2 separate regions of the Homo sapiens genome follow, and region 2 is linked to region 1. A link means that fine-mapping ties the variant in region 1 to the expression of a gene that starts in the linked region. Tissue or cell type: naive CD4 T cells. Region 1 holds a variant in brackets; the other region holds the start of a gene. All regions are shown on one strand. Distances are from middle to middle.

Region 1 (5,573 bases):
TTTTTATTTTTGGTAGAGACGGGGTTTCACCATGTTGGCCAGGCTGTTCTCAAACTCCTGACCTCATGTGATCCACCTGCCTCAGCCTCCCAGAGTGCTGGGATTACAGGTGTGAGCCACCGCGCCCAGCCTTTTTTTTTTTTTTTAAAGCAAATCTGAGTCGTATCATTCCAGCCATAAATATAATCACAATACTGTGATCATGTCCGACAAAACGGACAGACTCCTGAGTGTTCTCCAGGCTGCAAGCCCTTGTGCAGTTTACCTTTTGTCTCACAAGTGACTGCATTGGCATCGGAGCAGCGCCCCAAGTCTCTCTGGTTTAGAACAGCTCCCCCTTGCATCCCCTCCCCTCCAAGTTCCTCCCATCCATCTATTGAAGGACCTTGGTCGTTGACTTGTGGAACTGCCTGCATGCGGGATCTGGCTGGTTGTGCCCTGCTGGTGTTCTTTTATACCCATTTTTTCTTTAAACTGGTAGGATCAGGGGCTGGGTGAGCGTCAGGTTTGCTTTTTCCTTTGGCGAGAACGCTCATAGCTGGTGCTGTGTTCTCCAGGCTCCTGAAGGCGTGTGGCAGCCGGCTGACCGAGAAGCTCCTGGAAGGTGCTCCGACCGAGGATACCTTGGTCCAGATGGAGAAGCTCGCTGGTGAGGCAGGGGTGCTGTTGCCGGGGCCTTGGCCCGGATGGCCGTGGGGCGGTACCAGCTGTCTGCTCTCCTGGCAGGAATCGCTGAGGGAGGGAAACGCGGCTCTGAATCAGCCCAGAACGAGCCTTCGGGAAGCTCACCCTCCGATCTCGGTGTGATTGTTGTGATTGTTGTGATTTCCTGTCTCGTTTGCCTTGACCGCCATGTGAAAGAATCTGTTCCCCAGCTAGGTGGGGAAAATTCACAGGTGGGCTGTCTGTAGAGAGAACTGGCTGATTAAAGGCTTCTCGTCCCGATTTTGTGATAGCCAAGTGCTTGGCCTGGTCGACGGTCTTTGCTCCTTTACAAATAAAGTGTTCTGTTTCAGTTCGTCCCAAGTTTTCCATGAAGGGCAGTGGTTCCCTGACCTCCCAGGTGCCTGGGCTTCCCCAGGTTCCTGATCTGGGGCTTGGGGCCCTGTGTTTGGGGATCGTGGCACTGTGTGCACCAGCCTGGAAGCACTGGGCCAGTCTTGGCCAAGCTTTCCATCAGGGATGATTTGATCTTGGTGCTACAGGTCTGTGGTACGACCATTGTTCCACACCACATGTCATTAATAATGCTTCCCATGCTTCTGCTTGCAAATGACCAGCCTTCCAAACAGCCAGAGCTGTTTCGAGGTGTTTCTGCAGGCAGGTGCAGGCGTGCCCTCAAATAAGCTTTGCCAATGGAGTCTCAGCAAGAGCAAAACCTGGTCAGGAAAGACAAAGCCTGGGAATCCACCCCCATGCCCTGCAGGTTGGCTGGCCCTGGAGCCATTTATTATAGTGCTAATCATGTTTCTAGGCAGGTGCAGATGGCAAGGGCAGTGTCTTGGTGAGCTTTTTAGCACGAAGAGCCAGGTCTGTCGAAGCCTTTGTGAGAGCTGGAAACGCAGGTGTGCTGGGCATGCGCAGTATGGGGTTTCGGGCTCAGGGCTTGCCCTTTGGCATCAGACAGACCTGGCTTCGCATCCTGGATTTGCTTCTGACGTGCACCCTTCCCTTTGGGTCTCGTGATGTGAAATGGAGATGTTGTCATTTGTGAGGGCTCCATGAAGTTTCGTTGAAATGACAAATACTAATTTCTTCATCTGTGAAATGGAGATAATAGTGCTGACCTCAGAACAGCTGAGAGGACTAAATGAAATGATGTTGGATGTAGCCATAAAGAACGAAGTCAGGCACTGGTGCACGCCTGGAATCCCAGCTCTTGGGAGACCGAGACAGGTGGATTGCTTGAGCTCAGGAGTTTGAGACCAGCCTGAGCAACATAGGGAGGTCCAGTCTCTACAAAAAATATGAAAAGTAGCTGGGCGTGGTGGCGCATGCCTGTAGTCCCACTACTTGGAAGGCTTCGTTGGGAGGATCACTTGAGCCCAGAAGATTGAGGCTGCAGTAAGCCGTGATCGTGCCACTGCATTCCAGCCTGGGCAACAGAGCGAGACACTGTCTCAAATAAAAAAGATGGGAATAGTAGACACTGGGGGCTCCAGAAGGAGGGAGGGAGGGAGGAAGGGGAGGAAGGGCTGAAATGCTTTCTATTGGATACTATCTGGGCATATTACTTCCTGTGGTTCACTGTCTGGGTGACAGGATTCATAGAAGCCCAAACTTTAGCACCACGCAGCATACCCTTGTAACAAAGCCGCACACGTACGCCCTCAAGCTAAAACAAAAGTGGACCGGGAGGCCGAGGTCGGGGGATCATGAGGTCAGGAGTTTGAGACCAGCCTGGCAGATAACGGTGAAACCCCGTCTCTACTAAAAATACCAAAAAAAGTTAGCCGGACATGGTGGCAGGTGCCTGTAGTCCCAGCTACTTGGGAGGCTGGGGCAGAAGAATCGCTTGAACCCAGGAGGCGGAGGTTGCAGTGAGCCGAGATTGCGCCACTGCACTCCAGCCTGTGCGACAGAGTGAGACTCCGTCTCAAAAAAAAAAAAAAAAAAAAA[AG/G]TGGAAAAAAAAGAAACAACGTGTAGATCCTCGAGAACTGTGGCCGACTGGGTGTGTTCCGTAGACACGCTGTTGGCATTTTTCTTACTGATTTGAGTTTTCTCACCAGCAGAGAACAGCTGACGGTCTTTCCATAAGTGCTTCTAAGAGAGATGTGTGGTACCCCGGGCTAAGTAGACAGCAACTGAGCCCTCCCTCCCACCCCAGGGCTCCCAGAGCAACAGGGAGCAGGGAGCATAGGACCTGGCCGCAGCCAGGAATCTACACTGACCGGCTCAGCCCATGAAGTATCTTGGGCTGAAGTCACAGGATGAGACTGTTTGTATCTGTAACTGTCCTTGTCATCTGTCTTGCAGATTTAGAAGAGGAATCAGAAAGCTGGGACAACTCTGAGGCTGAAGAGGAGGAGAAAGCCCCTGTGTTGCCAGAGAGTACAGAAGGGCGGGAGCTGACCCAGGGCCCGGCAGAGTCCTCCTCTCTCTCAGGCTGTGGGAGCTGGCAGCCCCGGAAGCTGCCAGTCTTCAAGTCCCTCCGGCACATGAGGCAGGTAGGCGGCAGGGGCACAGCGCATCAGGAGCTCAGGAGGAGAGCCAGTCATGGGCTGTCCCTGCCCACACGCCTTGCCTCTGGACCCTCCACCTTCAAAACCCTGCAGGAAGTGACTGACAGCCTCCTCGGTGGGTGGCTGAGGGCACAGGGCGTTGGGGGTATTAGCCATAGGATCAGTGCTCCCCTTTCAGTGATGACCTAAGTATCTTCAAAGAAAAGCCCAGATAGTTGGCATCCCATGGTCCTCTAATCCTCTAAGAAGCTCCTAAAGGCATTGAACAGCACTGTAATTGGTTTGGATGCAGCCTGGACCCTGCCCATTGTAAGTGATGGTCTGGCTGGGCGTGGTGGCTCTCACCTGTAATCCCAGCACTTTGGGAGGCCAAGGGGGAGCGGATCACGAGGTCAGGAGTTCGAGACCAGCCTGGCCAACATGGTGAAACCCCATCTCTATTAATACAAAAATTAGCTGGGCATGGTGGCATGTGCCTGTAGTCCCAGCTACTTGGAGGCTGAGGCAGGAGAATCGCTTGAACCTGGGAGGTGGAGGTTAACAGTGAGCCAAGATGGCACCACTGCACTCCAGACTGGTGACAGAGCGAGACTCCATCTCAAAAAAAAAAAAAAAAAGAAAGTGATGGTCATTCTTACAAAAAATTAGGAACAACTTGCATATCAAACCATACTAGTAAACAGTAGCCAAACCATGGAATATGATTAATTAGAAGAAATAAAGCAGGCACTGTGTGTTCAGGGTGATGTATGTACATGTGTGCCTGCCAGACACGACAAAATCTAACAGTGTTGTCTCCAGTTACATCGAGTCAGATGCCGGGAGAGAGGGGTGTGGGTTGCTGGATTACAAGGGCAGGCTGCCTTCTTATAAAATTCTTCTGCATGAATTTTTCCAATGAGCACTGATTCATTAGAAGAGAGTTATTTGTTTTTGAAAATGGAGTGAGACTGATTTCATGGCAGATGTCCTTGGGGCTTCTGGATGTAAACACCCATTCCATCAAAATCCTGCATTTGGCTGAAACCTTCCTTGTCCGTTGCTTATGTTGATGAAGGTTGGAAGGGGTCTGGAATTCCTCTGGAGGTGGGACTACTTTGAGGCTGTTGGGGTTTGGTGAGACATAGTATTGTGGCCTCTCTCTTATGTTGTGTTTCAAAGCTGGGTTTGGCTTCTTAGAAGCCGTGAGACAGCAGGCTGGACTCTCCTAAGGTGTCAATGTCATGGAAGTTAATAACAGGTGGGGTGTGGGGAGAGGCTGTTCTAGGTTAAAGAATAAGGACGTGACAACTAAAAGCCATGATGGGTCCTGTAGTATCTCCTGGATCCAAAGAACAGCAGCCGTCAAGCAGGCAGCAGCCCTGGGCTTGTGCACACGGCTGGATGTCAGATGCGTCCGTCCAGGCACTCCTGGCTGCAGTCATGGTCTCAGCTGTGGAGATGCCCTTATTCTCCTGGGTGCTGCCATGTCGAGGGCCCTACAGCTTGCTTTCAAATGGTTCAGCAGAAAGTGTCTGTAGAGAGAAGGTGAATATTGCACAAAGTTAACATCTTTTTGCTTCAAATTTTTAAAAACAAAACTGGGAGAAAGATCTTGGAGCAAGAGCTTTGGAATCTAGCATTTATGTGCAAACCTGGAACTTCTCTCTCTGCCCCTTTAACCCTGGGCCGGGCACCCGCCTCCCTGAGAAGATAAGTGTCTTTCTCCTGAGCCCTGTCTTTGCTCTACAAAGTTTTATGAACACACAAATAACTTCATGGGAAGGGAGAGAAAAACCATTTCTACTAGTCACGCTGAAAGCACTGCACTCTCTTGTTTAGGTCCTGGGTGCCCCTTCTTTCCGCATGCTGGCCTGGCACGTTCTCATGGGGAACCAGGTGATCTGGAAAAGCAGAGACGTGGACCTCGTCCAGTCAGCTTTTGAAGTACTTCGGGTGAGAACATCTTTTCCTTAGGTGTGCGGCGCAGGGCAGTATTGGCCTGGTGCCTGGCGTCAGGTGGGGATGCCAAGGTGCACCGACTGCCCAGCACAGAACCGCTGTGCACCACACGGTCTCCACTGGGGGCGCAGTGGGCACGGAGACCCGGGTCTGGTCTGATGATGTTTAAATCATCAGAAGGATGCGTGTGCCTGCTGACTGCCCAGGCCTGAGAGGGAACAAAAATGCATATGACACAGTCTTGGTAAAAGCTTCTTTGTGGGATGCGGTAGGAGACAAACATCTGTGCAGGCAAACATTAATATGAGTTAACACCACAGAGCGAGGGGCGGTACAAGCTGGTGTGTGACTGGCGGTCCAGACAAGAGTTAGGGACCTGGTGGTGGAGGACCCTCCCCCCTCACCCCCACTGTGGGCTGAGAGTCTGGGGACTCCTCTGGCAGGAGGGAG
Region 2 (8,069 bases), 180 kb after region 1:
GCAATACGAACAGGCAATCCACAAAAGAAACAAAAATACTCAGTAAATACTATAAAAAAGGCTCAACTTCATGAGTAATTAGGAAAATTATTAGAGAATTAAATCATTTGATAATATCCAGTCCTGGAAATGTTATCACACAGCCTTTTTTGGAAGGCAATTTCGTGGTATCTGAAAAAAAAAATTTATGCGCTTGATGTCAACCCAGCCATTCTATTTATAGGTATCTGCCCCCAGAGAAATACTTGCATTCATGCATGCACGCACACACACCCAGAAGTATTTATAAGACTCTTTGCCGAAACATTCACTGTATGTAACAGCAAAACCCATAAGCAACCTTGATGTCTATCAATAAGGAAACGGGTTAAATTATAGTACACTCCTAAAGGCCTAATATGCAAAATGGTTCTGGCATCTTTATATGCAACACCATGAAAAGAACGTAAAGATATGCTGATAAGCAGAAAACAAAAAATATGTCGCAGAGCAAATACATGCACACAGTTCAGGATAAAAAGGTTTAACTGTATATTTGAGCTGGGCACAGTGACTCACGCCTGTAATCCCGGCACTTTGGGAGGCCGAGGCAGGCGGATCACGAGGTCAGGAGATCAAGACCATCCTGGCTAACACAGTGAAACCTCGTCTCTACTAAAAATACAAAAAATTAGCCAGGCATGGTGGCGGGTGCCTGTAGTCCCAGCTACTCGGGAGGCTGAGGCAGAAGAATGGCATGAACCTGGGAGGCGTAGCTTGCAGTGAGCTCAGATCGCGCCACTGCACACCAGCCTGGGCAACAGAGCGAGACTCCGCCTCAAAAAAAAAAAAAAAACTGTATATTTGGGTCCGTATGTCGCTGAGAAATGCACAGGAAAACTGGAGGATAAATGACACTCTGTGAACAGGGGCCTGGAACAAGTAATAAAGGACGGTCACTTATCACTTATCCCAGATTACTCCAAATTTCCGTGAGGAGGAAAAGGCAAAGAACTCCACTGCTCCAAGCCAGCATTCTCAAGGCACCTCCTGCAACATAACTATCCCTGACATTATTGTCCTCATCATGTGCTCATGGTGTGGCCACTGTAGACCCTGAACAGGAGTAGGGGAACTAACATTGGCTTCAGAATCCTGGCTCCATCCCTGAACTGGGCAAGTCACTTCCCTTCTCTGGGTTTCAATCTTCTCACCGGTAAGAGGAAGTGGTTACATTAGCTGATCTCCAAGTCCCTTCCAGGTCTGATGCCATAATACAGTCCCTGCAAGAGGTTTCTGTGCCTCTCTAGGGGAAAAACAAACAAACAAAACCCACAGCTGAGGAAATAAACCTCAAACCAAAAGGCTCAGAGAAATGTCTGCTCCTGGGAAGATGACATCTCCAGAGCAAAAGCCGGCCAAGGCTGCCCACCACCTCCCTGGGCCCAGTATCCTCTCCTCTTAAGGAGGGAGTGGCCTCGATGGTGGCTGATGTATCTTCCAGCTTTGACGGTCTAAAATAAGCTCCAGGCTGGGAGGGGCAGCAGGAAGCAGGGGCTTGGGGGAGACTGATGGGAACCGATTGGTTGAGGTTTTCTAATGGAGCCATAAGGATGAGAGTGAGAGGGAGGGCCGGATGCAGAGAGCAGCAGAGAAGGCTGTTGGCAACAGCCCTGAGTCTCCCTCCTCTCTTTTCAAGAGCAGTTTCTTCCTGAAAGATCCCAGGAGGTAGAATGCTGGGCTAACCTCTCCCAGCACAAATAACCCCACTCATTATTTCAGAAACTACCATTCCAGTTGTGCCCTGAAGGTCTCAGGCCTGTTTCAAAACCCACAATTCAACTTTGAATACAGTGAGAGTACAGTATTTTAAGTTTGCCTCTCCCCGTGAATCCAATTAATAATCAACAGATTAAAAAAAATCTTAGCAGATTGGACTCAAACATGCAGATTCCATCCTAGTTTATCTAAGCTTAAGAATTCGAAAACAGCCCCTATGAGGTGTAAATTTACCAATTTTGACAGTTGCTTAGAATAACCAGGAAACTTACAAACCTCTCTCAGAACAACCCTTGCCCAGAAACTTCTTAAAGTGGCAGGTTTTTTTGGTTTGTTAAATTGTAAGAGAAAAAAGTTTCATAAAATATCATTTCTTGCTTTTCACAAATGCTCAGTGAAGGAGGTAAGCCAGGGACCAGGATTCCCAATTTACAGATAAGGAAATTAAAAGATACAGAAGTAAAGGGATTTGTTCAAGGTCACACAGCTGGAAGTGACAGCCAAGACCTGAAGCAAAGTCTCCTAACAACTCCTCATCGCATAAACTGTTTCATCCAAAAAAGCATCCAGATGAGAAGAAGGAATCAAGTTCTCCTTTACACTCCAAAACACCCTCCGAGGTAAATGAGTTCTATCCGTCCCAAGCTGACCGTCCTTAAAACCCTTGGTATCTTAACCATCTATGACTTTGCAGCCTTGAGTGTTTCGTTAAGCTTTTGGGGTTTAGATGAAAGGAATCTTTTCCTGGCAGTTGGAAACCTGACCTCAGAGAAAGGCCCCGTGCCCCAGGCCGTAACCCCTGCCCCACCACCCTACTCCAGTCGGCCATGTAAACAAGTCAAACCCTGGGTGCACTGAAGTGGCATTAAAAACAACCAGGCCCGTTCACTCGTTTTCAGTCTAAGGGGTTCTTCTGCGACAGGAGTGGCTACAACTAGGTCACACTGGACTGGAATGTGAAGGGACTTCCCCTGGCTTCATTCAGGAGGCTGAGAGAAAGCTCTGAAGAGGATGGAGATGATGGCCGTGGGGAGGGTACCGAGGCACATCCCAAGGAGGTGCACACAAGGCTCGGAATCCTGGAACACTAGGAGTTCAAACAGCAATCACTGCAGGGGTTCCCAAGGGCCATGGGGGCTGCAGCCAAGCCTCTTGGAGCCTTTCATCAATACAAATTCCCCATCTCCCCAGTCACTCCAGGGCGGGGGCCCCAGAACTCTGTGTTTAATGGCTATGACTCTAATGCACGTTTGGGAGTCATAACTAGTTCAAAGCCCTGTTTGACAGTTAAGGCTGGGAGACAGAAATCAACTTTCCCGAGGACCCACAGGTCTCCTCACCCCTCGGCCAGTGACCAGGGAACTGGTCCCAGCTCCCCGCTAAACTACGGCCTGCCAAACTAAGTTCAAGAACAAGACCCTCCTCGCCAGATTTGGACACCCCTTCACCTCTCTCCAGTGCTTGACAGTGACGATGATTCAGAATCGGGGCAGGCTGCGTCCCACTAGACGGAAGCCCACAGTCCTCCCCAACAATCCGACCCCTGGGCCACTCTGGCTGGACAAATCCAAGTCCAGTCCCAAGCCAGAATCTCAGGGGGGTCCCGTCAAGCGGCATGCAATCCCTAAGCGCTTTGTTCCTACTAAGCGAAACCAGGCACTTTTGAGTCACCCAAAAAGCATGAATCACACAGCCGGGCAATGGGAACGGGAAAGGATGTTATTTTTCGGCATACTCGAGGATTTTCCCTTTGTCCCAGCTCTGTCAATGCACTTCCCGTCCCCGTCCCCATGCCCCAGGACTCGCGCATTTCCCTGCTCCATTTTTATTTTCCCTGCAGCCCTTGGCGGCGCCCCGGCCGCCGACCCGCGGCTCCCAGAACGGAGGTGTCCGGGCCGGCCCCAGTCGCTCACCTGCGTCAGGTCCTCGTCGTTGAGCAGATGCGACTCGCGGGGCTTGAAGCAGTTCTGACACTTGCTCTTGTTGAAGATGTTGGCCTGGAATTTCCTGCACGGGTTCTCCTTGGCTGCCGACATGGTCGGCGCGGCGGCGACGGCGGCGGCGGCGGCGGCGCAGGCCTGGCCGGCCTGGCGCTCCCGGCGGGCTAGGGGCTCAGCGCGGCCGCGCCGCATCCCTCGCCGGCCCCGCCGCAGGCCCGGCCCGGCCTCCTTCCCGGCGGGCGGTTCGCTGCACGCGCCGAGGCTCCTGAGCCGCCCGGGCCTCACAGCGCGCGCGACGCCCAGCTCCCGCCCGCACCGCCGCCGCCCGGCCGCCGCGGGCCCATGGACGCGGCCTCGGGCCCGCTGCTTCCCGCTGCGGCCCGCCTCTCAGGCTCCGGTCGCCGCCGTCCCGGCTCGTCCGCGCCGCCGCAGCTGCCCTCGGCGCCCCGCGGCCGCTGCAAATGGGACCGGAGCGCCTCACGCACTACGGGGGCGGGCGGGCGGGCGGGCGGGCGGGCGGCCGGGCGCGGGGAGGTGCCGGGGCGTACGGGGCGGGGCCGCGCCCGACGCGATCGGCAGCCCCACCGGCCAATGGGGTTGGCGCGCTCTCGCTAACAAAGGAACCTCTGGGCCAATGGCAGTCGGGGGCGGGACCGAGGGCCGCCGAGCGCAAGGTAAGTTGTGCAGGCCGGGAAGGTGGGGGCGCCGGCATGGGACGTTCAGGTTTGGTGGACTGGCGCCGAGGCCGGCCGGGCTGACAGCTGCAGGGCCCGGGCGGGGGATGCGGGGGAAGGCGGAGCCGACCTCAGGCTGCCTCTCTGCAACCCCCTCGCTCCCAGGCTCGCCTTCCCGCGCCCACGCTGTACACCCAACGGAGGCATCTTCCCCAAGCCCAGCTCGGAGAGGATTAGTTTAGCACCTACTGTGTACCAGGCCCCCTCGTAGGAGTCAGTTAGCGTCGGGAAGGGCTGGATACTCCAAGGGCTCGCTCATTAAAGGTTCGCAACCTCTCCTTTCTCATCCCCATTTTACATAGGAGGAGACTGAGGAGCAGAGAAGTAACAGCGGGTAGTATTTCAAGGGATGACTAAGAGAAGATGTCAGCGGACTTGAAGAGCTGTCAGCTCCATTAGGGGAGATGAGCGAAGGCTGACTCTCTGCCAGGTGCTGAGCTAGGCATTCTTTCCCCCATGATGTGCTTGAGGAAATGAAGGGTCAGACACCTGGAGTAATTTGTGTAGGATCACTCTGCTAGGAAGGGGCCGAGCTGTCACTCCCGTCCTCCATTGTCCAGCCTCCTGGCCAAAAGACAACCTGGAAAAGGCTGTCAAAGGCTCAGGCAGAAGGTTGCAGGAGCCCAGAGAGGGGAGAAATGCGCTCTTTAGAAAAATTCGGGTGGCTTCAAGGAGGAGGGGAAGTTTAAGTGGACAGTGAGAGGGTTGAGTGTGGCTGGAAGTGGAGATAGGGGAAGAAGGAGCAAGAGGGATTGGAAGAGGGCTCTATCACCCAGGCCTTGTATTCCAAGCCCAGGCGTGCACATGTCATCCCACTGGCAGCTGGGAGTCATGGTGAGTCTTTAAACAGGGGGGTGAGCTAACCCAGCCTTCACGGAGGAGGTGACATTGGAGCATGTGGTAGTGGCAGCCACAGCAGCTGTCGCTCAGGGAATGGAGGAGGTTTTAGGAGGAGAAGTAGCAAATGCTTCCAGAGCTGTGTACTTTTCCACGGATCATCTGGTAAATATCCCAGGGAGGTGGATTTCAACTTAGTGTAAGAAAATGCTTTTCCTCAAAAGGGAGCTGTGGGAAGGCAGATCAAAGTCCTTTGGCAGCCTAAGGGGGAAAGCCCAGCTCCACCAGGCAGGAGCTCTGTGGCCTCGGGCAAGTCCCTTAACCTGCCTGGTGCCTCAGTGACCTCATGTACAAAATTGGCATTAATTAATTAATGTGAACATTAAATGATATAATGCTTGTTAAGTAGCATAATGTTAATTGGTGAATCTAGGCAAAAGGTGTTTATTGTACTATTCTTTTTTTTTTTTTTTTTTTTTTTTTTTTTTGAGACGGAGTCTCGCTCTGTCGCCCAGGCTGGAGTGCAGTGGCGGGATCTCGGCTCACTGCAAGCTCCGCCTCCCGGGTTCACACCATTCTCCTGCCTCAGCCTCCCGAGTAGCTGGGACTACAGGCGCCCGCCACTACGCCCGGCTAATTTTTTGTATTTTTAGTAGAGACGGGGTTTCACCGTTTTAGCCGGGATGGTCTCGATCTCCTGACCTCGTGATCCGCCCGCCTCGGCCTCCCAAAGTGCTGGGATTACAGGCGTGAGCCACCGCGCCCGGCCTTATTGTACTATTCTTGCAACTTTTCTGTTGCTTTAAATTTTTGCAAAATAAAAAAGGGACGGAAGACTGACAATTCTGCCCTGCAGAGAATACTCAGAAACTGATAGAAGAGGTGGCCACTGGGGAGGGGAGCTGGGTGGTTGAGAGGTGACCTACTTTTAATTTTCATTGCAATCCCTTTTGTTTCTGCTGAATTTAGTATTGTCTGCATGTACAACTTGTTTAAAAATATATATATACATACATATATATATATATATATATATATATTTTCTTTCTTGATGTCCTGCCCATTCCTCAAGGCCACCTCCCTTAAAGTGCTCAGCATGTTCTGCTCAGGTCAGTAGGCACATCCAGCACCTGCACTGGACTGGAGGGGTCCACAGTAGGGGCGCAAAGAAGAGTTTCATTCAGCAACTCAGAGGCAGCCTGCCCGGCAGGAGCCCACACTCAAGCAAGTGGAGACAAACAGAAACAGGAGACAGAGAAGTTCAATCCGGGGTGTTGTGGGGGCCCACACAGGGGCACCCAGCCCCGTAGGCAGCTTCAGGGAAGGCTCCTGGAGGAGGCAATGCCTAGGCCGAGTCTGGAGCTGAGTAAGACCCAGCCAGAGAAGGTGAAGGGAAAGACACGTCAAACTGGGGCACCAATTATAGAGTCTCAGGCCTTGAAACCAAAGGGTGTGTTCATGAACAGAAGCAGCTTTCTATCACTGGGTAGTTCAGAGAGGCAGGAGTGACCAGCATTGAGAGGCACTGGGAGGAGTAGTGGATGGTGCAAGCCTAGCCTCTTCAGGGAGACAGGTATGGTTTTTGTTGTTAATACTATTTCATCTCCATTTTATAGAAGACACACACGAGGCTCAGGACATATCAGGAACTTGCCTGTGGTCACAATTATAGATCCTACAAGTGAAGATTTGAGCCCACACAGGCCAGCACCGGAGCTGCCTGGGCCAGGGGCAGTCATCAATTTTGAATTTTTTTCGGCTGAGCACTTAGGTAAGGGCTGCTGATCTGGAGAATGAATCAGGGGCAAGGACTGAGAGAGCTGCAGAGGAGAGAGGGTAGCAGCCTGACTAGGATAGGGTCAGTGGGAGGCAAGGGAATGAATTTGGAAAATGTTTAGGAGGTAGAATCAATTAGTTGCGCTCCTCTCCAAAACCCTCACGGTAGAGTGGGGTCTTGGTTGCTACTCCATTTCCCCTGTCTAGTTCAGTGCCTGGCATAGAGCAGGGGCTCAAAAACACCCCATGGGGGTGCAGTGGCTCACACCTGTAGTCCCAGCACTTTGGGAGGCCGAGGCGGGCGGATCATGAGATCAGGAGTTCGAGACCATCCTGGCTAACACAGTGAAACCCTGTCTCTACTAAATATACAAAAAATTAGCCAGGCTTGGTGGCAGGCGCCTGTAGTCCCAGCTACTAGGGAGGCTGAGGCAGGATAATGGCATGAACCCGGGAGGCGGAGCTTGCAGTGAGCCGAGATCGTGCCACTGCACTCCAGCCTGGGCGACAGAGTGAGACTCTGTCTCAAAAAACAAAACAAACAAGAAAAACACCCCATGGGTGAATGGATGAAAAGTCATCGTTCCACCTTGTATTGTAATATCTCCTCCACCAGATTATGAAATCCATACCGACACAGTCTGTGTCTCATAACCTTGGCTTCCCTTTCCAGGGGCCTAGAACAGCACTTTGCATGAAGTTCAATACTCAGTGTAAACATGTAAAGATTCACTGGGCTGTATGCTTTTTTCACTGCATTGTGTACACCTCAATGTATATTGTTTATCTCAAAAAAGCAAATAAGCAAGCAAGCAAGAAAAGGCCGCTCAGGTGAGCCCCAAATGCAGGTAAGTCTTGATTTGTGGCTCTGACTGCCATCCTGGGAAGTTTTCCCTGTGTCCTGTTAGGGAGCAGAATTTACACACAGATACCCAGAGGTAACCACTATTTTGATCTCCATCACCATAGATGAGTGGAATCCGCTGCGAGCTATGCCTGGCTCTTCTCATTCAACAGTATGCCT

What was found. PIP is the estimated chance that this variant, and not a neighbour inherited with it, causes the effect.
Region 2: it holds the start of MPRIP, and the variant in region 1 is fine-mapped to the expression of MPRIP in naive CD4 T cells (Schmiedel 2018, PIP 0.95).

What each region holds. Positions count from the first base shown.
Region 1 is chr17:17,216,613-17,222,185 of GRCh38, reverse strand. It overlaps FLCN (folliculin), which reads left to right. Exons shown (of 14, transcript NM_144997.7): 8 at 558-649; 9 at 2,977-3,167; 10 at 5,004-5,117. Among named protein-coding and RNA genes, the nearest start is that of PLD6, 13 kb to the right of the region's middle. The variant AG/G (reference allele first, on the strand shown) is at 2,620.
Region 2 is chr17:17,038,574-17,046,642 of GRCh38, reverse strand. MPRIP (myosin phosphatase Rho interacting protein) reads right to left here and starts at 4,186. Exons shown (of 24, transcript NM_001364716.4): 1 at 3,672-4,186. The coding sequence starts at 3,794. LOC124903938 (a long non-coding RNA gene) reads left to right here and starts at 4,318. Exons shown (of 3, transcript XR_007065644.1): 1 at 4,318-4,372; 2 at 4,735-4,862; 3 at 6,886-7,300. RefSeq lists silencers at 2,194-2,488, 4,162-4,621 and an enhancer at 2,300-3,499.